Linked DNA regions of Homo sapiens. The protein of the gene in region 1 interacts with the protein of each later gene in a biochemical or structural test. Each region holds a gene or a part of one and is shown on either strand. Other genes may lie near its edges.

The links. The genes of interacting proteins can lie anywhere in the genome.
Region 2: the proteins of RHOD (region 1) and DAAM1 form a complex in vitro, tested with the Homo sapiens proteins (one study listed by IntAct).

What each region holds. Positions count from the first base shown.
Region 1 is NC_000011.10:67,052,754-67,061,421, reverse strand, and holds the start of RHOD (rho-related GTP-binding protein RhoD), read right to left. Parts: upstream 4,576-8,668; 5' UTR 4,520-4,575; coding exon 4,388-4,519; intron 1-4,387. UniProt on the Homo sapiens protein: Involved in endosome dynamics. May coordinate membrane transport with the function of the cytoskeleton. Involved in the internalization and trafficking of activated tyrosine kinase receptors such as PDGFRB.
Region 2 is NC_000014.9:59,316,674-59,325,248, reverse strand, and holds part of DAAM1 (disheveled-associated activator of morphogenesis 1), read right to left. Parts: intron 4,760-8,575; coding exon 4,665-4,759; intron 2,358-4,664; coding exon 2,024-2,357; intron 1,122-2,023; coding exon 1,011-1,121; intron 899-1,010; coding exon 795-898; intron 1-794. UniProt on the Homo sapiens protein: Binds to disheveled (Dvl) and Rho, and mediates Wnt-induced Dvl-Rho complex formation. May play a role as a scaffolding protein to recruit Rho-GDP and Rho-GEF, thereby enhancing Rho-GTP formation. Can direct nucleation and elongation of new actin filaments.

The DNA.
Region 1 (8,668 bases):
ACCTCAGGTGATCCACCCGCCTCGGCCTCCCGAAGTGCTGGGATTACAGGTGTGAGCCACCGTACCCAGCCTAATTTTTGTACTTTTAATAGAGATGGGGTTTTACAGTGTTGGCCAGGCTGGACTCCTCCTGACCTCAAGTGATCTGCACACCTTGGCCTCCCAAAGAGCAGGGATTACAGGTGTGAGCCACCACGCCTGGCCAATAGTGAGGAAGTTCTTACGAGATCTGATGGTTTAAAAGTGTGGTGCTTCCCCCTTCTCTCTCTCTCCTGCTGCCACATAAGAAGTGCCTTGCTTCCACTTCACCTTCCACAATGATTGTAAGTTTCCTGAGGCCTCCCCAGCCATGCAGAACTGTGAGTCAATTAAACCTCTTTTCTTTATAAATTACCCAGTCTCGGGTAGTTCTTTATAGCAATGTGAAAATGGACTAATACACCCAGCCCCTCCGCAGCTTCTGACCTTTGTCCTAGAGTAGGGGCCTGTCATTGTGAAGGGCACTGGTGCCCTTGCATCTGAGCTCCCAGCTTGACCACCCACTCAGTCACCTTCTTGATCTGAGCTGCAAGGCAGCCTGCTGGAAATCTCTTGGGAGACATGTTTCAGTGCTTTGCAAATGCCCATGGTAATGACACCACCACCCACCATTCTCTAAGGATCTTCTGTGTGTGGCTGTGTACTGGCACCATCTCCGATCCTTGCAAGCTCGGAACGTCAGTACAACCTTCACTTTCTGATGATGCCCAGAGAGAGGAAATGACTTGTTCAAGGTGACACACTGAACAGCTGGCTAGTGACAGAGCCAGGTCTTTGTGGCTGCAGAGACCAGGCCTTGTCCTCAGCCACCTGCCTTTCCTGAGGTTACCAACTCCAGTTCCCGGAGACAGAAAGGGGCTGGGTTTCCCCTCTGGCTTGTAACTGTCACAGCCCTTTCCCCCACTCGGGACGTCATCCTAGAGACTCTGTCTGTACCTTTTGTTGTGTTGTTCTTTGACCCCCAGGCAGGGTCACCCTCTGTCCATGGGATCAATGGCACCTAATTTTATCTGTTAAGCCGTCCTCAGCCAGAAAAGAAGGACTGGGCCTGTGCTGGACCAGGACGGAGATGACTCAGGCTCAGGTCTGCCCTCCAGGGGCTCACAGACAGAAAATGAATCATTACCAAGATGGGGGACCTGGCTCAAGAGGGAGTGTCGGGGCATCCCTGGTTAGGACACCCATGGGAGTCCAAGTGCGAACCAGGAAGGACCCAGGGGGCTCTAGCCAGCAGGGCCGGGTGCTCCCTGCCACCTCCTATCCCCATGCTGGTGTGGGGGCTGCTAGGCTTTGAACCTGTGGGAATGGTTGCAGCCACAAATGCCAGCCAGGACTGGGCAGAGGCTGGCACCCCAGCCTGGGGCTTCCCCCTGTCCTAGGAGCTCTCTCCACCTTGCCCTCCCCTGCTGCCCTGAATCCAGGGTTGGGTCACAGCCAGATGAGGGTCACTGAGGTCCCTCCAAATCCTCAGGCTGCTCTCAGCCCTTTGCTGTGTGCAGGAAGTCTGGGAGATGGGACTCCAGCCTCCTGGCTGCTGGCCCCTTGGGCTTCGAGGGCTGCCTAGAGGAAGAGTCTGGTGCTAGGGACAGGGGCAGGAGGAGGCTGGGTCCAGCAGGCAGAGCACTGGGGGCTGTGGAGAAGGCCCTGGTCGGGAGGGGGAAGACCTGGGCTCTAGATCAGTGCTGCCACTGCCGGGCCATGTGCCCCCAGGTAAGCCTCTGGGTTCTGGACTCAGTTTTCCCATCTGCAAAATGAAGCCTTTCCAACTCTTACACGTTGTGGGTTCTTTTAATTAATTTATTTAATTACATATATATATATATATTTATATATATTTTGAGACGGAGTCTCGCTCTGTTGTCCCCGAGCTGGAGTGCAATGGCGCGATCTCGGTTCACTGCAACCTCCACCTCCTGAGTTCAAGCGATTCTCCTGCCTCAGCTTCCCGAGTAGCTGGGATTACAGGCGCCTGCCACTATGCCCGGGTAATTTTTTTTGTATTTTCGGTAGACATGGGGTTTCACCATGTTGGCCAGGCTGGTCTTGAATTCCTGACCTCAGGTGATCCACCCACCTTGGCCTCCCAGAGAGCTGGGATTACAGGTGTGGGCCATTACGCCCGGCCCATTGTGGGTTCTTTAAATGAAGAGGACTCTCCTGCTCCAGGGAACTCAGAGCCCCCAGACGGGAGGAGCCTGGACAAATCCAGCCCATTTTCCTGGTGATAAGCATGCCCTCCCCCCATTTCTGGCCAGCCCCAGCATGTCCCTCAAAGCATTCACATCTTATCAACTGGAAGAGGCCCATTTCCACGTCATAACTCCTCTGAAGTTGGGATGGTCTCACCATCAAGGACATCTCAGAGCTGGTGGTGAGGCATCAGCCCTCCAGCCCCCGCCCATCAGGTGCCTTCCCCTGGGCCTGGGCCACCTGTCCCTGTGTGGTGCTCTTCCCCGGGTGCCCTCATTGTTGGGTTCCCATGGGCAGCATCTAGGGGCCCAGAAACATGTTTCCCCCAACTTAAAAAAATGTATGACTGGTCAAAGGAGGTGACACCAGCTCCGCAAGCTACTAAACAAAAGTGGCTCAATGCCACTGCAGCAGAAAGCACATGGGCCAAGGGTGGGAGACAGGCAGACAGATATCATCCTGATAAGAACTACAGTGTGATAAGAACTGGGGTAGGCCCGACCGTCCTGCTTGTGCTCAGATGCTCCAGCACCTATACAACCCCAGGGGCTTAGAGGATGCTGGGAAGAAAAGGAGGAAGAATGCCAGTTGCGGTGGCTCAGGCCAGTAATCCTAGCACTTTGGGAGGCCGAGGCGGGCAGATCGCTTGAGGCCAGGAGTTCGAGACCAGCCTGACCAACATGGCAAAACTCCATCTCTACTAAAAATAAAAAAATTGGCTGGGTGTGGTGGCTCACACCTGTAATCCCAGCATTTTGGGAGGCCAAGGTGGGCGGATCACCAGGTCAAATGATCGAGACCATTCTGGCCAACATGGCGAAACCCTGTCTCTACTAAAAATATACAAAAATTAGCTGGGCACGGTGGCACGCGCCTGTAGTCCCAGCTACTCGGGAGGCTGAGGCGGGAGAATCGCTTGAACCTGGGAGGCAGAGGTTACAGTGAGCCGAGATTGTGCCACTGCACTCTAACCTGGCGACAGAGCGAGACTCCGTCTCAAAAATAAAATAAAATAAAATAATTTTAAAAATTAGCTAGGCGTGGTGGTGGGCGCCTGTAATCCCAGCTACTTAGGAGGCTGAGGCAAGAGAATCGCTTGAACCCAGGAGGCGGAGGTTGCAGTGAGCTGAGATTGTGCCAATATCACTCCAGCCTGGGTGACAGAGTGAGACTCTTCTCAAAAAAAATAAAAATAAAAAAAAAGAAGAGATGCTGGAAGCAACTCCATGGACTCCCAGGACAACAGGGCTGAGAGGCGGCAGAGCAGGGGCCGCCTGGTGCCCGTGGAGTCTGCCTGGGCAGTCAGTGAGCATGTCAGGAAGGATTAACGGTGGGCATGCCTACAGCGCCAAGGACATGCCAGCTACCGCACGGGAGCTGCCTGTCAGCCTCCCCTGGGCTCCACTTCACCACTGCCCTACAGTCCCTCTACCCCATGGGGTTGTTGTGAGGAAACTGAGGCTCAGAGAAGCTAAGCAGGTTACAAAAGGGCACGGGGCTCAGAGGAGAGCAGAGACGCGGGCCCAGCAGCTGAGGCTACAGCTGGCGTGCTCCCACCCTCCAAGGCAGAGCCCATGGCATGTGCTTTCCAGCGGCAAGAGCTGGAAGGGAGACAATGTTTCCCAGGAGCGACATGTGCCAACTCTCCGTGAGTCCTTCCTGTGCACAGGCCGGGGCTGAGTGCTTGAGGTCTATTAACTCTCTGTCACAGTGACCCTGTGTGGTGGGCACTGTCACTCACCTGTGATGTAGTGAGGGACACAGGCACAGCAGGGTTAGGGGACTTACCCAAGGGCACACAGCTATAAGAGGCAAAGCCATAATTTGAACCTCGGCAGTCTGGCTTCCAAGCTCTCAGGCCCTCAGCGGAATTGTGTGGCCAAGTGCTGTCTTAGGATCTTGTGTGCACCCAGGTCGCCTCACTCAGTCCTTGTGACACCTCTCCCCGGTGGATGCCATTCCTCCGGCTTTACAGATAACATCACTGAGGCCTTCATTCCCAATGGCTGGGGCGGAAGAACTCTGCCCTGGACCCCAGGCCCCGCTGGGACACCCCTCGGAGGCCGGGTTAGGCGCACAGCCTGGGCCGCTCCGGCACGGACCTGTACACCCGGGCGCGCGAGCGGAACCGGGCGAGGCGGAGGCGCGGGGCACTCACCTCGGGGAAGGCCCCATCGGCGAAGACCATCAGCAGCGACGTCTTCCCGCAGCCGCCGTCGCCCACCAGGACCACCTTGACGGACCGCACGCCTGGTGGCGCCTCCTCACCCGCGGCCTGGGCCGCCGTCATCCCGGGGCCGGGCGCTGAGCGGGCGGGCGGGCGGCTGCGGCGCAGAGACCCAGACTGCGCGGGGCAGGCCCGGCGGGGCAGGAATGTGGAAGGGGCGGGGCGGCGGGAGGAAGTGCGAGCCGGGCGCCCCGAGAGCCAGGTGAGAGGCCCGGGCGGCTGGGCTGGGGCCCTTCCTCTCCAGGCCGTCTAGGTCCCTGAAGAAACGCTGCCCGAGCACCTACTGTGAGCTGGCCGCGCTGGGGCCACGGGAGGTCGGAAGGGAGAAGACAAACAGCGGGACCATGACAGTGGGGGCGGGGGTGTGCTCAGGGGCTGGGTCCCAGATCCCAGGCAGGAGCCAGTGACCTTTAGTGAATGAATGAATGAATGAATGAATGGTGCATTTCCCCAGGGGTCTCAGGACGCAGCACAACACAGGCGTTTCATGCCAGGTGGGAAGGGGATGACCCCCTTCACTGGCCCCACCAGGCCTGGCCTGCCCCCTCCCGCAGCACCAGGAAGCTCTGCTGCAGGTGGGCAGCCACCTGACACCGTGGCTGGCCACGATCTAGGGAAAGCGATAGAACCTTCCCTCTGTAAAGTGTGAGTGTTTCTTATTATTGCACCATGAGATGTCCCCCTGGTGCCCAAGGGCCCGGGGACCCTGAACTGTTTAAGACAAAATCCAGGCCCTGCCTTGAGAAGCCCACGGCTTAGAATGGTAGACACGCAGGACATCAGTGTGATCAGAACTACAACGGGAGTAGGGACAGGCAGCGGGACGGGAGTAGGGGAAAAGAGCTCCTCGCCCACGTTGAGGGAGTCAGGAAACCTTTCAGAGTCTTGAGGAAAAAGTGAAACACAGTCAGATGGGGGAGGGAAAAGGTGTTCCACCGGAGACAGCGGCACGTGCGAAGCTGCGGAGGCCGGAGCGGAATGCTGCCCCCCCACCCCGCCCCCGCAGAGGGTGAGGCTCGCTTGCACAGTGGTGCAGCATGAGGAGCTGGTGCTTGCTCAGTGGAGCACGTTGGATGCCAGCAGTAAATCCAGCATTGAACTGGGAACTCATTGTCACCTGATCTCTCCACTTCTCCTAATGGCCAGAGTTGAAATCTTTTAAAAATGGGCACAAGGGTCTTCCCAGATCTTGGACTGAGTGTTTCTATTGAAGCTTAAAAGAACAAGGGGCAGACGTCATTAGGTTCCCCCTAATTTATGCTGGTCATGACATCCCCCCTCATGGAGTTCCAAGTCAGGCAGGTGAAAAAGCACCTTCAACCTCCTTTAAACTCACTGTGGTCTAAAGAGGCAGCCAGGGCAGGAGTCACTAGGTGGAGAGGCAGAGCCCAGCTCCTTGACTCCTCTGCCCGGCTCCCGCTCCGGGCTGTGGTCTGCAGGCTGGATGGAGCCCCACTTGGAGGGAAGGATCCTCCCCAGCACAGCTCTGCCTTTCCAGGTGCCCCTTCCTCCCCGAAACTGCCACAGGGCTCGGCAGTGACTTGACACTGGGCTGGGCAGGTAGCTCCAGAGCAGGGCTCCCCGCCCCAAGGAGTGGTGAGAGGGGCCCCACCCCCTCGGATCAGCTGTCAGCATCTTCCTCCCAACTGCTGCTGTCGTCAGGCCTTGGGTGGCAAGGCTGGAAGGCAGGTGGGGCCAGACTGGGGGTGGAGGGAGCTGAGAGTCAGGCAGAGGCGTTTGGCCTTGGTTGCTATAGGGATAATCTCTGTAATGACACACTTGATGTTTGTCATGCTATACAGTTTCACTGAACATTTCCTAATAATAACAACACCCATTAGTGGATTGCAAGCCACGTGTAGGCACTGTTCCCTAGGAGGTAGGGACTCTTAGCTCCATTTCACAGATGAGGAGCCTGAGGCCCAGAGAGGCTAAGTTGTTGACTAACATCCACAGCTAGTAAGAGGCTGAACTAGAATTTGGATCCAGGCGTGACCCCAAAGCCAGGTGGTCTCCCTCCATCACGCCTCATCTGCACAATTGCAATTTCATTTAGCTCTCAGACCACGAGGTAGACCAAGCAGATGACCTGCTTCCTCCCATTTTACAGATTTGGGAACTGAGCCTCAGAGAGAGGCAGAGGGGTGTCTTAGACCAGCAGGACACAGCAAGGATTCAATCTCCTGACGTCAAGCCCCAGCCTCCGCTCCCCCACCATGCTTACGCTCCTGCGAGAGGGAGCTTAGTCACCAGGCCACAGAAATCGGCTCTGGTTGGCAGGGAATGTCCCTGAATCTCAGACATTGCTGGACCTGGGACCATACTGTTTTCCTGGAATTTATTTTTAGAGTGGTGGCCCAGGTCACACAGTCTGCCTGGCCAGGGTACTGTTTACTGTTTTAGTGTTTACTGAGGCTTCTCAGGACTTGCAGCCTGTGGGAGACTTAGGCCCCTCGAGGCCCCACCAACCCCAGGCCCAGATCTGTGGGGAGCCCAGCACCGTGGCCTACTGCCCTGAACCCTTCAAGGGCAGGGGCCAAGGCTCACCGTATCCCCTAGAGGAGTGCCTCTCTCAGGCTGGCACCCAGCTGTGGCTCAGGACGGTATGCCCAGTTGATCTCCTGGCCAGACAAACCAAAGGGACAAGAAAGAAAAAAACAGAGTGAGAAAGAGAGGAAGGAAAGACGGAAGGATGGACGGCAGAGGGGCTGGCTTAGAAGAATAAACAAACTGAAGAAATGAATAAAGGAACAAATACTTGCATGGATGACGAATACCACATGTGACATGAATGGGGAGTCTGTGGACAGGCAACCACTCTCCAGCCTCCGCCTACTCCAAGGCCCCCTGGCCTCACCCCTCTCCCCATTTTCTCACATCCCACCCCCATCCTAAGGCCAAATCCTATGCGGTCCTGATCGAGTCTCCACTGCCCTCATGTGGTCGCTCAGCTCCCTGCACAGTCATCACCTGGGGCTGCCTCCCTGCTTGGGGTTCCTGGCTTGGGGGTGTGGGGTGTTTGTGGATGGCTGAATGAAGGGGAGAGATACAGTCTTTCCCCTTGGAGTGGCTTGGCAGGGTGCACGGGCCCTGGTGTGTAGCTCCCGAAGCTCTTGGTTCCGCGTGCATCCCCTGTCCTCTGCTCTTTTTTTTTTTTTTTCCATGGGGAGTCTTGCCCAGGATGGAGTGCAGTGATGTGATCTCGGCTCACTGCAACCTCCGCCTTCCGGGTTCAGGCGATTCTCCTGTCTTAGCCTCCTGAGTAGCTGGGATTAGAGGCACCTGCCACCACGCCCAGCTAATTTTTGTATTTTTAGTGGAGACGGGGTTTCACCATGTTGGCCAGGCTAGTCTCAAGCTCCTGACCTCAGGTGATCCACCCGCCTCGGCCTCCCATAGTGCTGGGATTATAGGCGTGAACCACCGCGCCCGTCCCTGGCCCACATTCATCTGAAATACTGGATCCTAAGAGCCTTTGCCCTCAGCCTGAACTCCTCCACCCAAAGCCTTGACCTCGCATTTACTGAGCACCTACCTGTGCCGGACACTTGGCACATGTCATTTCATGCCATCCTATGAAGTATGTTCAATTCTTATCCTCCTTTGACAAGTGAGGAAACTGAGGCCCAAAGAGGTTGGATAATTTGCCCAAGGTCCCGCAGCTAGTAAGCAGAGAAGCTGGGATTTGGACCCAGGCCCTTGGGCTCCGGAGTCCATACACACAGAATGTCCAAAAGTCAGAGGTACAGGGCTCTTTAGAGGCCATCTTATCCAACACCCCCATTCTTCAGATGGGGAAACTGAGGCCTGAGAAGGGAAGGAACTTACACAGCAAGTGAGCAGCAGACTCAGCTTTACGCCAGGTGGAAACCAGAGGGCCTCTGCTCCCAAGTTTCTTTTTGTCTAGCCTGCCCAGACAGCTCCAGCCTGGCTGCCATCTAACTGGAGCCCCAGGCCACGGGGACGTGCCCTCCTGCCCTGGCCTCCTCTCCCTGCCAAACCATTATTGATCTTTCAGGTTGGGACGGAAGGGCTGATAATAGGGTGGGAGGGGTGGAGAGAGAGGAGGTCTGGTGGCCCCATCCTGGTGCTTATTAAGCCTTTTGATTTGTCCCTTTTGGGGGTCTGCAGGCACAGACAGATAGAAGAGAGGAAGGGAAGTTTGGAGCTTAGAGCTGCTGCCGACCGTGATGCAGTGGCTTGCTCTGCTTC
Region 2 (8,575 bases), on another chromosome or scaffold:
ATGTATTCTACACACCCAGGATACATTTTATGAAGACAAACACATCAGGGTAAAGGAAATAGAAAATGATGGCAGATGAGGTGAATAATGTACACACAGTGGTTAGAACAGGTCTCTCTCCAGGGAACTAGGGAACCAACAATTTGGACATCTGTGAAAGATCTTTTGAAGCTGAGGAAACAGCAAGCGCAAAGGCACTGATGCAAGAGTGTTCACAGAATATCAAGAAGAAGAGCATGTTGGAGTATATGAATATACAGGAGAGGAGAGCCGTGGTAGAGAAAAGCTCTGAAAGCAAGTTGGGATAGCTTAGACTCAGTGAAATGATAGCAAACGATGAAATGAACAGGTAGTGGAAATTAACATTCACAGAATGCCTATCAAAGGGGCTAAGTAATTCCATAGGTTTTATAGTCAATTTTTACATCATTCCTGGAAAATCACTGTCATTATCATCATCACCACCAGCACTATCTTTTGCAGTTATAAAAACAGCAAAATTCAGAAAAATTGAGTAACTTCACCAGGATACACAGGAATAAGAGGCAGGACTAGGATAGGATATGAATTCAGGTCTAATGCTAAAACCCACATTAAGTTCTCTACATAATGTGCTGCTTCCCTCATCAACAAAGTCTTACTATGAAAACATCATTAGCTGAACTAACATTCTGATACAAGCTCTTTATGTTACAGACAGGGCACAAGTAACCACAGGCCAGCACTTGATGAGGTATTGCATTACACAGATGGGAAACACAGAAACTTTCTCACATCATAATAGTCTGACTTACCTATCTAATGTTGAATTTTCGTGTTCCCTTAATTTATCTATTACAGGTTGAATTCCTAACATCAGAAATTCATAGCGAAGATGAAGTCTAAAGTCCAAACTCTCCTGAAAGTAAAATGGCAATAAAATACATATTTGTGGTTTTTAGACTACATAATAATCACTTTTTATAAATTATTATTTACTAATATATTTTTAATTTGTAGAAGGTTCTTACCACTCCTGCACCTTGGCTGAGCACTGCATTAATGAAGGACATGATGGCAGTCTTGAGACTCACTTCATCTCGATACCGCCCAGTGCTTTTATCCAAGTCGTTAATTAATGTCTATCAAAAATAGAAAAACAAAGGACTGAAACGTTACTAACCTTATGCTCATTTTATGAATTTTTTTATACTCAAAAGTTAACTTTTTTTTTTTTTCAGACGGAGTCTTGCTCTGTTGCCCAGGCTGGAGTGCGGTGGCATGATCTCAGCTCACGGCAACCTCCACCTCCCGGGTTCACGCCATTCTCTTGCCTCAGCCTCCCGAGTAGCTGGGACTACAGGCGCCCACCATCACACCCAGCTAATTTTTTGTATTTTTAGTAGAGACGGGGTTTCACTGTGTTAGCCAGGACAGTCTCGATCTCCTGACCTTGCGATCCGCCTGCCTCAGCCTCCCAAAGTGCTGGGATTAGAGGTGTGAGCCACCAAAAAGTTAACTTTTAAAATCTTACGTTTAGACAGGATTACACTGACCCATAGAAAGCCACCCTTTTTCTCCTTAAGAACAGTCCTAAAAACTCTAATTTCAAAATTCTTACATCATACATACATGTATACAAAAGCCTTTGCTTCATTATCTCTGCTTGCTTTTTACATCCAAGTAATATAGTGAAATATGAAAAATTATTAATATTGATCCTAATTCAAGAATGGCAAGCTGTAAAATTTTCAGGGAACACCCAGTTTGGTGGGTTCAAAAGATGTGTGCTATATGACATATAGGATGCAAGACCACATTTTCAAGTTCTGCAAATCTAAAGGCCCAGATTCATCAACTATTGAAAGTATACTCTATTCTCTGGTTCTTAAACCTAAGAAGAAGGGAATGTTTAAAGTCACACTGTGAGTAATCACCACAAGAGGACATCTCAAGTAACATTCCCCTTTCAGGGACAGGAAAAGCACGTGTTTGAGCAGACTTTAAAGAAGGGGTGAGTGAAGAAGGCTGAGCGAACACCCACCTGAAAGCGGGTCCTTTCGCTGGCATACTTCTGGTAGTGCAGCATGGCCTGCAGAACCTTCTTGTGGCCCCCGGGAACCAGGCACACGGCGCCCAAGATTTCCAGCACGGCCACCTTCGTTTTAATGTTCTCTGTGCTCAGACTCTGAGCAATTACATTAATACTCTCAGAATGAGCCAGGACGTGAGCCCGGCCTTGAGAGTTGTTCATTAACGCCTTTATACAGCCAATGAGAGAAGTATGTATTCGAGACTCTGAGGTCTCGTAGTCCATGGTCTTTAGAAAGTTGAGGATACATGATAGGCCATCCAAGTCGATGAATCTGGTTACAAACCTGTCATGAAGAGAAATGCACCATGCTTAAGTGCCTTTGGGTTTTATAATAGCCCCTAACAGAAAAGTCTAGAGGGCAGGGGAAAGAAAGATTTAGTTCCTAAAGTGCCAAAAGGCTTACATTGATGAAGTCTTTTTAATTCTTTGCCTCTTCCTTGGCACAGACCCAATAGTCAGTTCTAACCAAAAGTGTGAAAAAAAACCCCTCCATTTGTGATAAACATATCTCAATGGGTACAAAGAACCAAACAACAGATCATATATTCATAAAAAATTAGAAGCAAGAGAATACTCGGAATACATATCTTGTCTTAGATTAAAACCATCTGCTGTTCCTGTGTTATTTAGCATACAGTTCCCATGCCCCCACCCCAATCCTTTTTTTTTTTTTCTTTAAGAGAGACAGGGTCTTGCTCTGTCATAGCTCACTGCAGCCTTGAACTCTTGGGCTCAAGTGATCCTTCCACCCCAGCCTCCCAAGTAGCCGGGACTACAGGTGCGTGCCACCATTCCCAGTCAATTTTTTCTTTTTAACTTTTTTTTTTAAGAGGTGGAGACTTGCTATGTTGCCCAGACTGGTCTTGAACTTGTGGCCTCAAGCAAACCTCCTGTCTCAGCCTCCCAAGTAGCTGGGATAGTGAGTGACCATGTCTGGCCCATGCGCTTTTATATGTTGATTGCTGACGCACTTTTAAGTGCTGATCACTGACCCAAACACCCTATCAATGAAAGTCAAAAGCTTCCTTAAATTCCAGGATATTTGCTTGTTGAACAAATGATAATCTACATCCCTAAGGTTTTGTGACAAAATTCTTCTCTTATATGACATGCTACATGGAATCTCAATATTCCATGTACACTGAATACAATAATAAAGCAATACTTTATTGTTGCATACTAACGTTATTAATATTTCTTACACTTAAGTTAATCAATGAGACTAACTCACAATGCACATGTACATATTAAAGCCACCGAAAAGTTCAGAAGTAACATAACCTGTTTATGTGATAAATTTTCCAAACTTATTTAGGCTTGGATATCGATTAACATCTGAGAGTGCAGAACATATTGAGAGAAATGCTGATACAGTTAGGATAGTCTAGATCTCTGTCATATAACTACACAGTATTTTTCATGAGTCAGACTTTTCTTAGTTTGCATTTTATAGTCAAATAAAGAAAGGGAATCTTTATTTTCTAGGCTTTTCACCCAACCACATGACCCAGATGTAGCCAAGCTCGTTAAACCAGTTGGCTTCATTCATAGCACCTGTGCTCATGTAATGTACTTATAAGAACCTCAGCATCTCAGCAAATCCTAGAGGCATTAAAGGAATGAAAGTGCAGGAGGCACAACATAGAAGCTGATTATCAGAGAGGAAATGAATCACTGTTGCCAGAAAGTGTACCCATCTTTAAAGAAAAGTAATACTTGTATTGAGAAATAATTCACATGCCATAAAATTCACCCTTTTAAAGTGTACAATTCAGTAGCTTTTAGTATATTCACAGAGCTGTGTGACCAACAACACTAGCTAATTTTAGAACAGTTTAATCACCCAAAGAGAACATTTTCCCCACTTCCTCAGCTCCTGGCAACCACTAATCTACTTTCTGTTTCTATGGATTGGCCTATTCTGGGAATTTCTTATAAATAGAATCATACAGTGTGTGGTCTCCTTTGTTACTGGCTTCTCCCACTTAGCATATTTCAAGGTCATTTCATGTTGTAGCATGTATCAGTACTTCATTCCTTTTTTTTGTAGCCAAATTATATTCCATTATGTGGATATATAACATTTCATTTATCCATTCATCAGCTGATCAATATACGGGTTATTTTCACTTCTTGGCTATCATGAATAATGCCGATATGAACATCTGCATACATGTTTTTGGGAGACATGTCTTCATTTCCCTTGGCTACATTCCGAGGAGCAGAATTATTGAGTCATATGGCAACACTATATTTAACATTCTGAGAAACTGTTAAAACCCTTTTCCAAAGTGGCTTCACAATTTTACATTCCTAGCAGCAATGAATGAGGGTCCCAATTTTTCTACATTCTTGTCTACTAACTTACCATTGTTAAAGTCTCTCTCTGTTTTGTTTTTTTTTAGCCATCCTAGTGGCTGCCTACATACCTTTTCACAGAAGAAAATAACTTTATTAAATGTTAATGATTAAAGTATGTTATGGTTTAATTTTATGGTTTTAACTTAAGACTTCCTAGAAGGTTTGACTATTGCAAAAAAAGGAAGGAAGGAGAGAAAAAAAAAAAACATGCCATCCAGGGGAAAATTACCTCATTGGTTTTGTCCTCAGTGCTGTCTTTAAACTCTCTATAGTTTTACTTCTTTCTTCTTCTTCTTCCTTCTCTAAAGCCAGCAGAGATTTTCTCTATGCAAAGAAAACAGAAGTTACTTCTTCAAATTCTATTTTTTAATTACAGTACAAACAAGACAAACCTACAGATTATTTGTCACTATCACTTTAAATATAAACAACAAATCTATGATTAAGTAAGTTAAGTCTTTCAAATTTTAAATAAAGCCTTAGGGAAAAGTTTAGAAATCTTCGTAGAGATGACGTTGCCCAAATGCTTGTATAACTATTCTATAATTACACTTTGATGTAGATACTACTACTTGTATTTGATAGAAATAAGACTGAACCTGTAGTTGAATACAACATTCTGGCAATTAAAGATAATAATACCATCACATTATCAAAAACAGGAGGTGGGCAGCAGTCCTCCTATGCTACCATTCCTATTCCTCAGCCAAAAAGTGTAATCAAGACCAAAGGGATTTTGTTACATCTAATTATTTTTTAAGAGGAAAAATTAATTTGGAGCTATTACTAGGATAGACAATTCCTTCAGAGTAAATGCGTAACTTCTAGAAATTATTCAACATCATTTAGAAATCAGGATATGGAGTGAGTGTGTGTGTGTGTGTGTGTGTGTTTCTACCCAGGGATCTGCTAGAGCAGTGCTTCTCAAACTTTAATATGGATATGAAAATCACCTGAGGATAGTGTTAAACTATGGAGCCTGGTTTGGTATGTCTGGGGTGAGGTCTGAGATGTTGCATTCCTGACAAATTTCTAGGCAATGCTGATGCCGCAGAAGCAAGGTTCCATGTAAGATTGCAGTTGTTATTATAAAATTGAGAATGCCAGTAAGGTGTCTAGACCTTTCCATTCCCTTTCACTCTGTGATCACCTGGTTGCACTAAAGTACCCCAAGTCTTATGACTCCAGGATCCTCCATCCATGGAGCTCCTGGTCCCTTTTCTTCATCCTATTCTGAACACACGCTTGTCTAGTTTAATCTTTTTACCTATTACAAATTCTGATAGAAATGCTTGGCTGAGAAACAGATTGGGGTGACTGTATTGAAAAAGAAAAGCTTGACTCATATCCATGGGTCTCAATGACCCAGTCTCAGCCTTTCTTTCAGGACCATAACTCATCAAGAGTGACAATCAATAGTATCAGCATTAAGTAACTAATGTTAACTAAAAGCTAAATATGATTTCATAATGAGAAGGGTAAAGATCAAAGCAAAATAAATATAATACATCAGTATCATTTATGGCAACTGAAATAAAACCCAGTAGTTTTTTCGGTCTTTAAAATCTTGTTATTGTTTCTGCAAAGTTGTCCTCTTGCTGGTGATGCTCACAGACAGCTGTCACCAGGGGATGGTGAGTAAGGAAGCTGGGTGCAGAGACAGCCAATGAATTCTCCCAAAGCTCCCTGAGACCCATCCCCTGGAAAACTCACACAAATCCAGCCAAGAACGTTTAATCTCCAATGACATAGCTGAACTCGTTTGGACTCTTATGCAATCACTTTGAATCTGTAGCTCAGAATCCAGCCTTTTATGAAGATCATTCCTTGTTCCTAAGCTTAATGACACAAAACTATCCCCAAATTAATGACTACACATTTTACTGCGGGTCACTAGTACAAATAAAACTGCATGTATTTATCCTTTTAAAAATCCTGGAGAGGGTGGCACATTTGAATAGCAGCAGTCTATATTAAGTTTCTCCATACTAGAGTTGGGAGATTTATGAAATGTCAAAGAAAATTAAGTTGGAAATTCCTTTCCCAATACTGTGTAAGGAACATAACCTTTCAAAACAGAAAAGACTACAACATTTTCTATGTGTGATTTTTCAGATTTGGTTCTGAGATTATATTTATCGTGCTGAGATAACTGAGGATATGTAGCTGAACTTGATGTTCTAAATGTGACTTTTCAAAATAAAATAATTTCTACAAAGTTTAAAGCTTTCAAGCCTCACATTTAGGAAGAAGGTTTAATTTGCAACTTTTAGTAGATAAGGGAGATGCCTAGATTTCTGAAGATGATTACTATGCCAAATATCTAGTATGCACAGGCCTTGTGGAGGCTTCTTTGAATGCTCTATGCACTTACTAAATACCTGCTCACATGAGAAGCAGGCAAAGGACAAAGCGCATCCTTGCAGAGGGTCTTTCTGTCAAAGCTGCTAAGGTGTACATTGGAACACGCGGGTCTGACAGAGAGGCACAAATGTGGCCCAGAGGTCATTCCTGCTGGGAGTCTGGAACTTAGCTCCCGTTTGAATCGTTTCTTTGGTGGGAAATCAATAAGCCAGTCCACTAAGCATACTGAACTTCACCTCACAGTCTTCCTCCTTGAGAAAGCATGGAGAAACCACATATAAAGAAAGCCCAGGTCCTTCTAGATGTTAGGCCACACTCTTTATTATACTATTTTTCACTCTTTAAAAGCCAACAGATCACTCAGGGGTCCTTTAAAGAACAAAGCATTCTTGTAATGAGGCTTACATAAAGTAATTGAACTTGTTCCAAAAAGGCTGGCTTCACAGACTAGTAAGTGCTGCAGTTCTCCACCTGGACTGTTTATCAGACTCTTAAGACATTAAAGAAAACAGAAGCCTATCCCATCTCAGAAAAGTCAGGCTTGCTAGGCCTGGGGGTGGGGAGAAGGTGGGATAACCAGGGCTCTTTCACATGCCACAGGGTTTCAAAAACTGAATTAGTGAGAGGCAAATTGGAAAGGAGTCTTTGGGCTTAGACGGATACATTTAAATTCCCAATTAGATGACCACCTCCTAATTAGATAACCTTGGGCAAGGTAACCTTTCTGGAGTCTCAGACTCCTTATCTATAAATAGCACTTACAGCATAGGATGCTGGTGGGACCGCAAACAACATATGAAGTGCCTGTTACCCTGCTTGTCATGTAGTAGTTGCTGCTGATTCTGCAGACAATGGGTGATGACAATGTGGACAAACACTCCTTCAAGAATGCCCTAAGCAGACAACCAAAGAGTCTAGCTGCTGGGCCATGAAAGGATTTGGAGAACTTGTGTGCCTTTCCACTGCTCCAGGTACAATATCTCAGGATTTCTGCTGTGTGTTATCAAGAATTCTCCAGTACAGACATCATAGTGATTAGCCAGAACTATGCAAGGCGGTGGTGGCAATCAGAATGTTGAGAAAAACAGAAAACTCAGCATAGGGTTTCTGGTCTCATCAGATCTCCTTATTCCCTGAAGTATGCAGGAATTTTGAGGCCTCACTAATTCATGGACTATTAATGCCTTTTACCTTTGACCCTGGAAAGATGTTGGCTCAGTCCTAAAAGGAACATTAGAAAGCTTTCTTAGGTGTTTGACACAAAAAGTATAGCAAAGTCACTGACAATTTAATAGACTTGTGGTGCTCTTGGGAAGGATTTTGGATTGGGAACCAAACACACAGCAGTTAAAATGTAGATCACTCAAGAATGTGGCAAAGAATTGTCCAAGGAGCTGGATGGAGGAGAGAGGAGGCCCTTAAAGAAGGGCCACATGTTGGCACATCACAGACCCTGTAGCACACAAATGAACCAGGTCTACTTCAGACAAGGCAGGGATTAAGTCACTAAAGGACAAATTAATCTAACTGTCCTATACTTGAAGAAAGGAAAAATCCATACAGTACTTAGTAGTTCCCCATTTATAGAAGGGAATTCATTAACAAATAAGCAACTTCTCATTAGATAACAAACATGCAAATTTAATTAGAAAGAGAAACAATTCTTTTTTTCCTAACAGCCAGGAACAAGAATTCAGAAAATAGCCTTTATATGCAGGAAATATAAATGGCTCCAAATTATTATTGCTTAGGCAGATGCACAGAAAATCCCTGGTG